3 linked regions of the Homo sapiens genome follow. The protein of the gene in region 3 purifies or fractionates together with the protein of the main gene of each other region. This does not show direct contact. Each region holds a gene or a part of one and is shown on either strand. Other genes may lie near its edges.

Region 1 (3,753 bases), on a different chromosome or scaffold from region 3:
TACCATATTTTATGTAATTTAAATCAAAGAGAAAACATTTTCTTGTGCTTTATTTTACATTGAACATTTAACAACTTCATTAACGTTGCACATCATTTGCTTTTTTTTGCTCCTTGTGTTTATATGCCAGTCTTCAATAAGTGACCGATGTTGGGACTCTGATGTCTTGCCAAGAGTGATTACTAAGCCTTACAGGTCATTAAAACTGTTTATTGCTAATCACTAGAAAATTAATTTTTAAATTGATCTGCTTAGTGTTTTTCTTAGTGCATTCTTAGTGCTGAGTAAGCCACATCAAAACCTATTAATTTTGTGTCCTTTATCCAAGTGAGGGATAAATTCATCATCTTTCCCTAAACCTGCTTCATCAGTATTCTCAATCTCAGTAAATGATGTAATCATTATCCTATTTGGATAATGTAGAAGAAATGGAGAAGCCAATTACTGAATCTTTCCTGCCCCAGTATTTTCCCATTGCAGTCAACTCCCAACCCTTATTCCTGACATTTTCTGGGATTCCATCCATGCCAATCAAGCCATTATTGTTTCTCATCTGGAGAACTGCCACATTCTTTTACTTGAATTCCCTGCCTCTATGCTTGCTCTTCCCAAGCCTAGACTTTAAAGCTGTTTTTGCAAAGTACGCACTCATTTCACTCTCATGCTTCGGTCTTTTCAGTTGCCTTCCTTAGGATAAGGTCCAGAAAAACAAACAAACAAACACAGCTTGGGTACTACATACATCACCTGGGTGATGGGACCATCCATATTCCCAAACCTCAGCATCATGCATGTAACAACCCCCAACATGTACCTTCTGAATCCAAAATATAAATAAATAAAATAGGGGAAAAAAGAATGAAATAAATGAAAAATTCTCAAAAAAATAAAGTACAGCTTATGGACCCAGTAGCGCTATCCTTATTCCTTGTACTCTGCGTTTCAGTCATGTGAAGTTTGCGTCACTTCTTCAACTGAACCAGGCTGTCTTGTCTCCAGGCCCTTGCACAGTATGTTTCCTCCACCTCAGACACTTCTTTGCCCCTTCATGTTTCTGTGTAAACATCATTTTTCTTAAGATACCTTCCCTGACCCTGCAAACTAAGTCTCCTTGCTTTGTGAAGTTCCTAGCCCATAGTGCTACATTAGTACCACTTTATTGTAATTACCCCACTTGGAATCTTCTTTCCTTTTAGAGTATAAAGTTTATGAAGGTAGGGATAACATCTTATACATCTGTTTTCTCAACTCCTAACATAGTGCCTGAAATTTGTAAGTACTTAAATAAACATTTGCCAAACCATTGTTTTAATTGTTCACTGTCTTTTCACTTGTTTGGTTGAAGAACTAAGATTTTGAGTTTCCAAACTATTTAGATTTTTGAGAATCCAAACGGTTGATCATAAGAATTAGACTTACATGGTTTTAGTGTTCTCAGCTAGGGAGCTAGGTTAATCCTGAGACATTTTCAGAACATCATTATTGTTGATGCGTGATGCAGCGGACCTTAACGTTCATACTATAAAAATCGCAGTCTTTTTTTGTTCTGATTATTCAAGCAAACCAAAATGATAAAGTATCAACTGGTAGGTTTCTGCGTTGTTGCTTTTATGAGATAGAGCCAAAAAGTTTTTTTACTTCTTGTCCTGTGTGTGTTGATTATATTATATAATATTTGTTTATTTTTTGCTGTTTCCCCTATTAGAATATAAAAGCTCTAACGAACACAGAGACTTCGTTCCTTTCCTTGTTTTATCCTCAGCACCTTGAACAGTGGCTGGCAGAGTAATAAATATTTATTGAATGGAGGAATGATTGGAATCCCCTGGACAGTAAAGTTGTTGATTCAGTGCTTTTACTTTTCCTATTTAGTTCTGAAAATCCAGAATGGCTTGATGTTTACATGCACATTTTACAACTGCTTACTACAGTGGATGATGGAATTCAAGCAATTGGTAAGGTGGTTTATCGGGATGCACTACAGTTACTCATTTAATTGTTTGCTGATTTTAAAGTACTGCTTTATTTGTCCTCTTTATTAAGTACATTGTCCTGACACTGGAAAAGACATTTGGAATTTACTTTTTGACCTGGTCTGCCATGAATTCTGCCAGTCTGATGATCCACCCATCATTCTTCAAGAACAGAAAACAGTGCTAGCCTCTGTTTTTTCAGTGTTGTCTGCCATCTATGCCTCACAGACTGAGCAAGAGTATCTAAAGATAGAAAAAGGCAAGTACAGTTTCCCAGGCTCATACTGTTTTTCATTTCATTTATTTCTCCCTTTTAAAAAATGCTTTCATTTCCCTAATTATAAAAACATTACATGCTAAACTTCAAAAATTTATTTTATTATCATATTTATTTATTTTATTTTTTATTGATTTTTATTTTTTGGAAACAGAGTCTTGCTGTGTTGCACAGGCTGGAGTGCAGTGGTACAATCTTGGCTCAGTGTAACCTCTGCCTCCTGGGTTCAAGTGATTCTCGTGCCTCAGCCTCCCAAGTACCTGGGATTACAGGCGCACACCACTATGCCCAGCTAATTTTTGTATTTTTTCAGTAGAGACGGGTTTTTACCGTGTTGGCCAGGCTGGGCTCGAACTCCCGACCTCAGGTGATCCACCCACCTCGGCCTCCCAAAGTGCTGGGATTACAGGCGTGAGCCACCCCACCTGGCCTGTTTACTTATTTTAAAGCCAGAGTCTTATTTTGTTGCCCAGGCTGTAGTGCAGTGGCAGGATCATAGCTCACTGCAACCTTGAATTCCTGGGCTCAGGTGATTGTCTCACCTCAGCCTCCTGAGTAGCTGGGACTACAGGCACATGACGCCACACCTGGCTAGTTTTTAAATATTTATAGAGACAGGGTCTCACAATCTTGCCCAGGCTTGTCACAAACTCCTGGGCTCAAATGACCTTCCTGCCTTGCCTTCCAGAGTGCTGGGATTACAGGCATGAGCCACTGCACCCTGCCGAAAAATTTATAAAAAATATCAAGGAAACATGATGTTTGTAATCTTACCATCCCACACATGCACATATATTTAATTCTGCTTTTTAGCCAACATTTCATTTAGAAATATAAAATGAATATTTTCCTATATAAACACATATTCTTTCACAGAATTGTTTTTATGACCACAATTAAATTCATGATTCATTTAGAATTTATTCTCGTGTCACATGTGAAGTGTGGCTTTAATTTTTTTTCCCCCTTTGATAACTTTGGTTCTAGTGGTATCAGTTTTTTCCCAGAGGGCTACCCAGTTATCTCAACATCATTTAGTGAATAATCCAGCTTACCCACACTGATTTGAAATTTCATCATTATTTTTAAAATTCCCCTATATATTCTGTTCAGTTCCATTGCTGTATTCATATATTAGTAGCCATAGTGTTTTTAAATATTAAGGTTTTATGTTTTAATACCTAATAAGGCAAATTCCTCTTCATTCTAAGTTTTCAGAATGTTTTTAACTATTTTTATCACTAACTTTGAGTTCCAAAAACAAAAAATTTCTGACATTTTTGTTGACATCGTGTTAACTTGATAGGATATGTTATGCCCTTTTATTTGTTCAGGTCTTTTTTGTGTCCCTCAGTAATGGTTTCTTCATATGGATCTTGGATATTTCTTATTAGTTTCATTCCTAGATAATTGTATCTTTTGGGTTTACTATTGTCTGTGACATATTTTCTTCCACTGATTATTATTGTTGGAATATATGAAGGCTATTGATTTTGGTATATT
Region 2 (3,753 bases), on a different chromosome or scaffold from region 3:
TACAATAGAATGAATGTTCTCAAAAGCAAAGAGTATGGGGGTTAATAAGGCACTCAGAGGGTAGATCTGAGCCACACTACAACGTGACTATATAGAGCAATAGAAAGGAAGAACTTATGCTTTAGTCATTAAAAGAGGATAATAATTTAAGAAAACAAGCAACTGGATAATGGGAGTTTAAGGACACATTAACCACACCAATCAGAGTGTTTAATCAATCTGGAGTTCAGAAAGATATTATTTTAAACAATATCTTCTTCAGTCTACATTTTGACTAAGTAACAAGGCAACATTTGTAACTACAGATGTTAGAAAATGAAAATAAAAAATAACAAGAGCTAACATGCATTGAGTGTTTACTGTGTGCCAGGTATTGTTCTAAATGCTTTGTATGTTTCAACACATTCAATCCTCACAACCTTCCTATGAGTTAAGTATCATTATTTCATTTGGCCGATGAAGGAACTAAGGCACAGAGAGGTTAAATAATTTGACCACTATGACATTAAGAGGCAGAATTACAATAAATATTGGGAAACTATTAAATAGGATTTTTAGCAGGCACTGACTGCCTAAAAGTAACTTCTGGTAAAGAAAAAAAAAATAGCCATTTCTTTCACTTAAATCATCAATCCCCAAAGAAAGAAAATGTGTGGGTGGTTGTTGTTGTTTCCCTAACTCTCGTTGTTCCAGACTAGGCCTGATTTCCTTTGAGAGATCTTTCAAACTTGATATATTTTTATGATTTGTACCAGGAAGCCATTATAACACGCAACTGTATACTAAAGTTCACCATCATTTAAAAAAAAAAAAAAAATCCTCCTCTCTCTATCCATCCCTGCACCGCCAACCCCCACCCTCCCAAAAAATCAGAATTTTTTTCCTCATGTTTTCCACTAGAACTGGCATAATTACAACAACTTAAAGATATCAACAAACAAATTAGGTAAATAACCATGTCTTTTTTCAGTGAACAAGCCAGGCTCATTCTTTATAATTGCTGTATACTGGAGTCCAATGTATCAGGCTAGGCAATTAACTGAAATACTGAATTACAACTTCAAATGAATAAATCCTGTTTTTAACTGTAACTTTCATTGCTTCTGAAAACCAGTCTGGCAACATTTTAACAGCTATTATGCCACTTTGTCTTTAAGTCTCGGGGGCACTAAAATATAAAAGTTATTTAAACGTGTTTTCTCAAACAATGACCTGTCAACTCTATATACTACAGATAAACAAGGCTATTCTCCACCACGAGTTGACACGTTGCCTTCGGAAGGTTTCCTGCGCCGAGGAAAAGTAGTGACAGTCGAACCTGTCTCTCAGCATCTCGCCCTCCCCCGCCCCCTTCTCATTTTCCGAAGCACTGTGCGAAACTCCTTCCGGGCAAGGCCAAGACTCTTAAAGAGACAGAGGGCAACGTGCTGCCACGAATGTGGCATTTGTCTGAATGGGGGTAGGGAGTCTGACATCCGGGAGGACTGGGACTCGACCGATTGGGATCCTACTCGCCTGCGGACTGGAGAAACCACCTGGGAACCGGGCACTGTGACAAGCAAAGGGTCAGAATCAGGTGCGATCGAGGAAGCACCTGAACTCCTTCGAGTTGCAGGATAGCACACAAGCACCCGGACCTGGCAAAGGGAAGCTCCCAGTAGCATCGTTGCCTAGGGTCCTGCCAGTAACGCCCCCGTGGGAGGTGGAGCGGCTTCTCCGTCCGACCGGCTCTCTAGAGATCAATGAAGACAGGAAGCCAAGCCCATGACAGGCTCCCAGTTCCCTCAATTGCATTTACGCCCTAAACAGCCCTGGAACAACCGAGGGAACAGCACCCAGCGGTGTTTCAGTATTTTACCTTGTGTTATGGTCCCAGCCTACCGCCATGTTTCACAGAAGCCCGGGTCGCCGGGGCTCCCGCGTACCCGGAAATATCGCGAGAACAAAAGCGACTATCACAGCTGAAAACGTCAGAAAAGAGACAATGTACAGATCTCGCGATATTCCCTTTGCTTACGACGTGCTTAGGGAATGAAGAGGCGTGGTTAAGATAAAAGAGGCGTGCCTACAGGGAAATGAGGTTGCAACTTGTTTTAGGTGTAATCGCGCCGCCAGTCCGGTTCTGTTTCTATGGGAAGGGAGGGGTTACTTTCCGACTAACACTGAGACTGCAGAACGAATCTCAGCTCCTCACACCGTATTTCATTACTAATAAGAGCCTTGGGCGCAGAAATTATCCCTAACAACCCTAATGCATATCACCTGTGCAATTGTTTTGTTTCCCTCTTTCAGTTTTTGTGTCGTTTTCCCCTGACAAGAACATTTGAGCTTCCTTTTCCGCCATAGGTAACGCTTTTTATTATTTGATCAGCGTTTTTATTGTCTTCCAGGTTTTAATATCATAAGAAAGCACATATGTCTTCCTCATCTCCCTTCGCCAACACCAACTATGCCTTCAAATATTTGTTAAGAAAGAAAATTAATACCTCATCTTTTTCTACCACTTCATAGAACAGGAGTTAATAGACGGAACTTCGGAAAGAAAAGTTAAATGTGAACTCCTGGAGAGTAAACCCATTCCAGGTTCCTTTTCACCCATCTGTTACCAGATTTTATAATCAAACATTGAGATTTAAATTTTCTGATTCATTGACCTAGAAGTCTAACAACGGCATAATTATGACAACTGCTTATAATTACTGTTTAAAGGCTTTAACTGCTTTTTTAAAAAATCTGCGTATCCTCACAACACTCTTAGAAGATAATACCAGTATTTACCTGTTTTATAAATACGGAATTTGAGTCAAGGGGTAGTGAAGTGATTTACCCAAATTCAGACCGCTGGGAGAGTCAGGGAAATCTTGATCACAATACTAAACTGTGCCTCAAAGGAAAAAAATCACATTGTTTTATGTAGTGAATTAACCTTTACTGAAATACTAAATTTCACTAAATTGAATATCCCCCAAAATAAGGACTGATGAAAAGTTTCCAATGAATCAATTTTATTTTCAGACTTTCAGAGTTAGTCTAATTAAATCAATTTAAAGTTCTCACTTTCTTGACATGCTTAAGAAGTATAGTGTAGTGGGTGAAATCATAGACACTGGAGACAGGACTTCCTGGGTTAGAATTCCAGATCAGCAACTTACTAGCATGTAACCTTGACCACATTATTTCATCTCTTTGTGTCTCCATTTGCTCATCTGTAAAATGGGCATGATAATATCTCAGAGTTGTTACGAGGATTAAGTAAATTAATATACATCTAAAATGCCTTTTTTTAATCTTTGCCGTAAAGGCATCAGCAACTCTTCCTTCTTTGTGAATATGGGCTCTTGCTTGGATGGAGGCTGGCTGTTGTTCACTTAGTTACATCTGATCCCTCATCTCCTGGATAACCTACTTTCAGGGTAACAACTATCCCATGAGAGTTGGATTTCCCAGTGTAGCAAAACTGACTAATTTGATCCTTCTTATTTAGAAAACAACTCACCATTTTCTAATCTACCCAGTGAAGAGGGAACTTAATTTCCCCTGAAGATTGAAACTCTCGGGCTGCAGCTAAAGCCGCATTCTTTTCATTAAAGGCCAGGGTTTGATCTAACAGTAGCACGACATCTCTGCAAGCGAGGTCAAAGGTTTGCCCTAGACCCTGTAGGACATCTATGTACCTATCAGGATCATCTTTAAAAAGAGATAGATACTTAATCTTGTGTTATCAGTGGCGTTATGTCTGAAAAACAATTTGCT
Region 3 (3,753 bases):
CCTGAAGTTGCTCACTTGCAAGGAAGAGGTGCAGAGCATTGCAATCTGCTACCACACCTCTCACACCTGGTGAGAATCAGTTCTGATCTCCAAGGTTCTGACCTCTGAGAGTGACGTTAAGTCCAGAGAGCCACACCACTACACCCTGAGAGACCTTCAGCAAAAGGCCCGTGAGCTCAAAGAAATTGGGGTCAGGATGCTTTTAAAGCAAAAAATGCTTTAAAAAAAAAAAACAGATGGTGGTTAGGAGAAGATTTGGGGGTAGGTATTGAAAAGGAAGAATGGGACTGGTATGTAAACCCAGCTGACAGGACAGGGTCAGGCCAGGCAGAGCCTGGAGGAATCACGTTTTGTGGCTCTGGATTGCCTGGTATCTGTCGTGAGGCTGCACTTGCTACCTCAGACATGGGTAGGAGGTTTCCTAAAAAAATATCTTGAGTCTCTAAGTTCAGGTAGATCTTAGAAAATAAACATGGGAAGAAAGAAAAACACAATTCAAACGGCTCAGATGTAATCTGCTTGCCATGTTTCTTCTCTTCCTCTAAGACTCATCTGAATGCCCCCTGTGCTATAAAGCCTTCTCTGATCCACAAACACAGTTTTAAGTGCGTGGCCCTCCTGGGTGCACAGAGAGAGCAAGCCCATCTCTCTCCAAATCCCCAGTGCACTGAGCACACTGAATCCTACCTGCCTGTTCAGATGTCTGCCTCTCTCACTGAACCGTAGCAACTTGAGGATAGACACTGTATCCTTCTCTACCTTCCATCTCCACATGGAGAGGGAAAGTGGGCTAACCAAGACCCTTTAATCATAAGCACCCAGTCTAAGGACCAGCCCAACCAGCCAGAGTGATAGGAACACGTTCCAGGGGCATGGACCTCGGGAGCAACTTTTCTCTGGAGGCGCGGAGCATGTTTCCAATCCCCTGTACCACCTACTTGCCCCCCAGAGCCACCCTGCATTGGGCACAATTGTAATTTAAGAGAATTTCTTTAAAACGTGAAATCAATATTTAGATGCAGACTTCAAGCAATATAGAGCATTGGTTTGTGAGAATGGCATCATTCTGCTGGGAAAAACAAAGCCCAGCTTTGGCAGCCCTGATGGGAGAGATAGACCTTGCATCTACCAAGGTGGAAGGCGGGGAGGATGCTGTCTGGAAAGAATGCTAGATATGTGTGCATGTGTGTGGCAGGAGGCTCTGGGCTCATAAACTGTCTGGCTACAGGGAAGGCTGGACCTGATTTCCTGACCACAGGCTCTTGAAGTCCCCATGGTCTTGCTGACAGAGGCCCCTAGAGTAAAAGGAGCAGGCTGGAATTGTTCAGGAAAATGTTCTTCCCAGGCTGGGGTGGCCAAGAGACCATTCATTTAATGCCTGATGGAGAAGAGTGAGGAGCCTGTGCTTAGCAGTGAATGGTCCGGAAGCCAGGCAGTGTGGCTTTTCCAAGCAGGTAGATGTCCTCATCTGTGCCCTGGTTGAGATGCTTCACCAAATTCTTCTCATAGAGCAGCGGGTGGTAGGCACCCATCGTGCAGGCACTATCGAAGAACTTCTGGTAGTAGTAGCACACGTCAGTCTTGCGCTTGGATGGGAGGAACTCATAAATATCCACCTGGTCACACAGCGTCATCATGATGATGATACCTGGAGAGGGGAGCAGAGGTGAGTCATGCCTGACAACCCACCCCAGCACCCCAGAGCTCTGCCCAGTGGGTTCAGCAGCTCATGACCCCAAATTTGGAGAGCTTTCCCTCTGGAGTTTCTATTTATGACTGTGATTCCCAATCTAAGTTTCAGCAAGCCAAGCCCAGCAGTGTTCCTTAGGATGCAGGGCTGTGTGAGGGTTATACACCTTTGAATCCCCAGCACCTAGGCCAGGGCCTGGTGAATAATAGATCCTCCCTAAATGCTAGTAGATTAAATGACTCCATCAATCAGCCAATGAATGTATCCATGGAATAATTTATTTGGAGAAAGAGGACAAGATTACTGAGCTGATTGAGGAGACAGTGGCATCATGTGTAGTTAGCACTTTCTAGCACTGTGACATCCTGCAGAACCTCTTGGATGGTGCTATTTGGGAGCAGATTTTTCCTTATAGCATTTGCATGAAACAGTGTTGGGGAGGGAAGACTTTTCTTCCCTTAGCTGGGCAAAGGGACAGCTGGAACAGGAGCACTCCACAGTCTGAATGATGAGATGTAGAGAAAATCCAAGAAGGGGGCCCCTGGCCAGCATTGTTCCAATAAACTCTGCACAGCACTGTTACTGATCCTATCTTTATTTAAATACTTGATATTTCACTCATCATAATTTTTACATTAATTGTGTTTTCTGAAGATACTGTAGTGAAATATTATTTATCTTGATGACTGAGTTTTTAAGGGGTACGCCCTTAAATTGTACACCTGAGAAAAGTGCCTTGCTCCCCTCGTCTGAGGTGCAGCCCCGCTCCTCATTTTCCCACCTCCCTCCCCTGTTCATAGCTTCCCTTCCCTCCATCTTCCTCTGCCAAATTCTCCCCTCTCCAAAGCCTACCGAACACTACTTCCTCCATGAGGCTATAAGCAACTGTCCAGCTAGAAGGTGTCCTCTCTCCTATGACACCAGGTTGTCTCTCCCTTCTGGCACAAATTGAATATTGCCTCAGACATCTGATTGACCTCCCCAATAGATGCCCTCAGGAAAAAGGATTCTATCTGATTTCCCTCTGTATTTTAGATAGAACTTGGCATGGTCTACAAGCAGAGCAGAATCCTAGCAATTGTTTAGTGAACAAATGAACAAACGAATGACTGAATGAGACCCCAGAAAAAAAGCTCATCTCTTCTAGAAACAAACATGCAAGGTCTTTTCCCCGACATGAACTCACCAAGCATCCCAGAGGATGGGGGGTTTGGCTGAATCTCTTCTGGGGAGATTTCTTGAAGAATGTCCCATAGCTCCCAAGGCATCTGGGGCTTGAGGATGTAAAAGGGCTGATTGGGGTGCAGCTTACGATAAGTCTTGTAGTTGTTAAAGAAATTATAATCCGGATTCTGGTACCACTGAAAAAGAAAGAAGTGGTCCTCTCAAGGGAGAAATGGGCCAGTGAGCTGCTCCCCCCAGGAGTCATCTTCATCAGTGGACATGGGGAGGGGAAAGGATCAACAAGTGTTGCTCCTGAGGCACAGCCCTTTTCTTGCAGCAGACTACAGGTTTCTCTTCCAGCCGCAGGTTTCACTGGATAGCAGGGTGGGGCCTAGCCTATAGCCTGTGCTTTGGGGGAGAGTTGAGCTTGGCGACCCAAGATCAGCTTCAGGCTTCAGGATCAGAGTCCGGGAACACTCTCAGAGCTGAAAAGAGCCCCACGTACCATCTGGCCCCATCTCTCATTTTTAAAGGGGAGAAAACTAGAGCATAGGACATCTATGGGTTCAGAGTCCTTGTCCTGACCTAGGCAAATTTGAGTTCTAAGTGAGATCAGTGCAAAACTGTTGAAAGTCAGATAGTGAGGGTGCCAGGGGTCGCCAGAGCCTGTCAGGCATTGGTAGATCCAACTTAAGAGTTAAGTGTCCCAAGATTAGTGCTCTCTGCCCTTCTCAGGCCATGCTCCTGAGGCCACAGCAGCCTGCATCAGGGAGAGGTCAACTGACATGCATTAACAGTGAGAGGACTATTCCAGAGAGGTTAGAATCCAGCAGGCCTGCCACTCATGTCTCCTTCCCCGGAAAGAGCTGCTGTTGCAGATCTGCGCCTTCTGCTTAGTA

What was found.
Region 1: the proteins of ST6GAL1 (region 3) and SAAL1 purify together in Homo sapiens (affinity purification with mass spectrometry; 2 studies listed by BioGRID and IntAct, with this or other methods). This does not show direct contact.
Region 2: the proteins of ST6GAL1 (region 3) and ERGIC2 purify together in Homo sapiens (affinity purification with mass spectrometry; 2 studies listed by BioGRID and IntAct, with this or other methods). This does not show direct contact.

What each region holds. Positions count from the first base shown.
Region 1 is NC_000011.10:18,085,345-18,089,097, reverse strand, and holds part of SAAL1 (protein SAAL1), read left to right. Parts: intron 1-1,872; coding exon 1,873-1,955; intron 1,956-2,043; coding exon 2,044-2,232; intron 2,233-3,753. UniProt on the Homo sapiens protein: Plays a role in promoting the proliferation of synovial fibroblasts in response to pro-inflammatory stimuli.
Region 2 is NC_000012.12:29,379,257-29,383,009, forward strand, and holds the start of ERGIC2 (endoplasmic reticulum-Golgi intermediate compartment protein 2), read right to left. Parts: upstream 1,917-3,753; 5' UTR 1,859-1,916; exon of another isoform or gene 1,213-1,858; intron 1-1,212. UniProt on the Homo sapiens protein: Possible role in transport between endoplasmic reticulum and Golgi.
Region 3 is NC_000003.12:187,073,457-187,077,209, reverse strand, and holds part of ST6GAL1 (beta-galactoside alpha-2,6-sialyltransferase 1), read right to left. Parts: intron 3,052-3,753; coding exon 2,877-3,051; intron 1,649-2,876; coding exon 1,407-1,648; 3' UTR 1-1,406. UniProt on the Homo sapiens protein: Transfers sialic acid from CMP-sialic acid to galactose-containing acceptor substrates. In B lymphocytes, generates neuraminidase-sensitive lymphocyte cell-surface differentiation antigens, such as CDw75, HB-6 and CD76.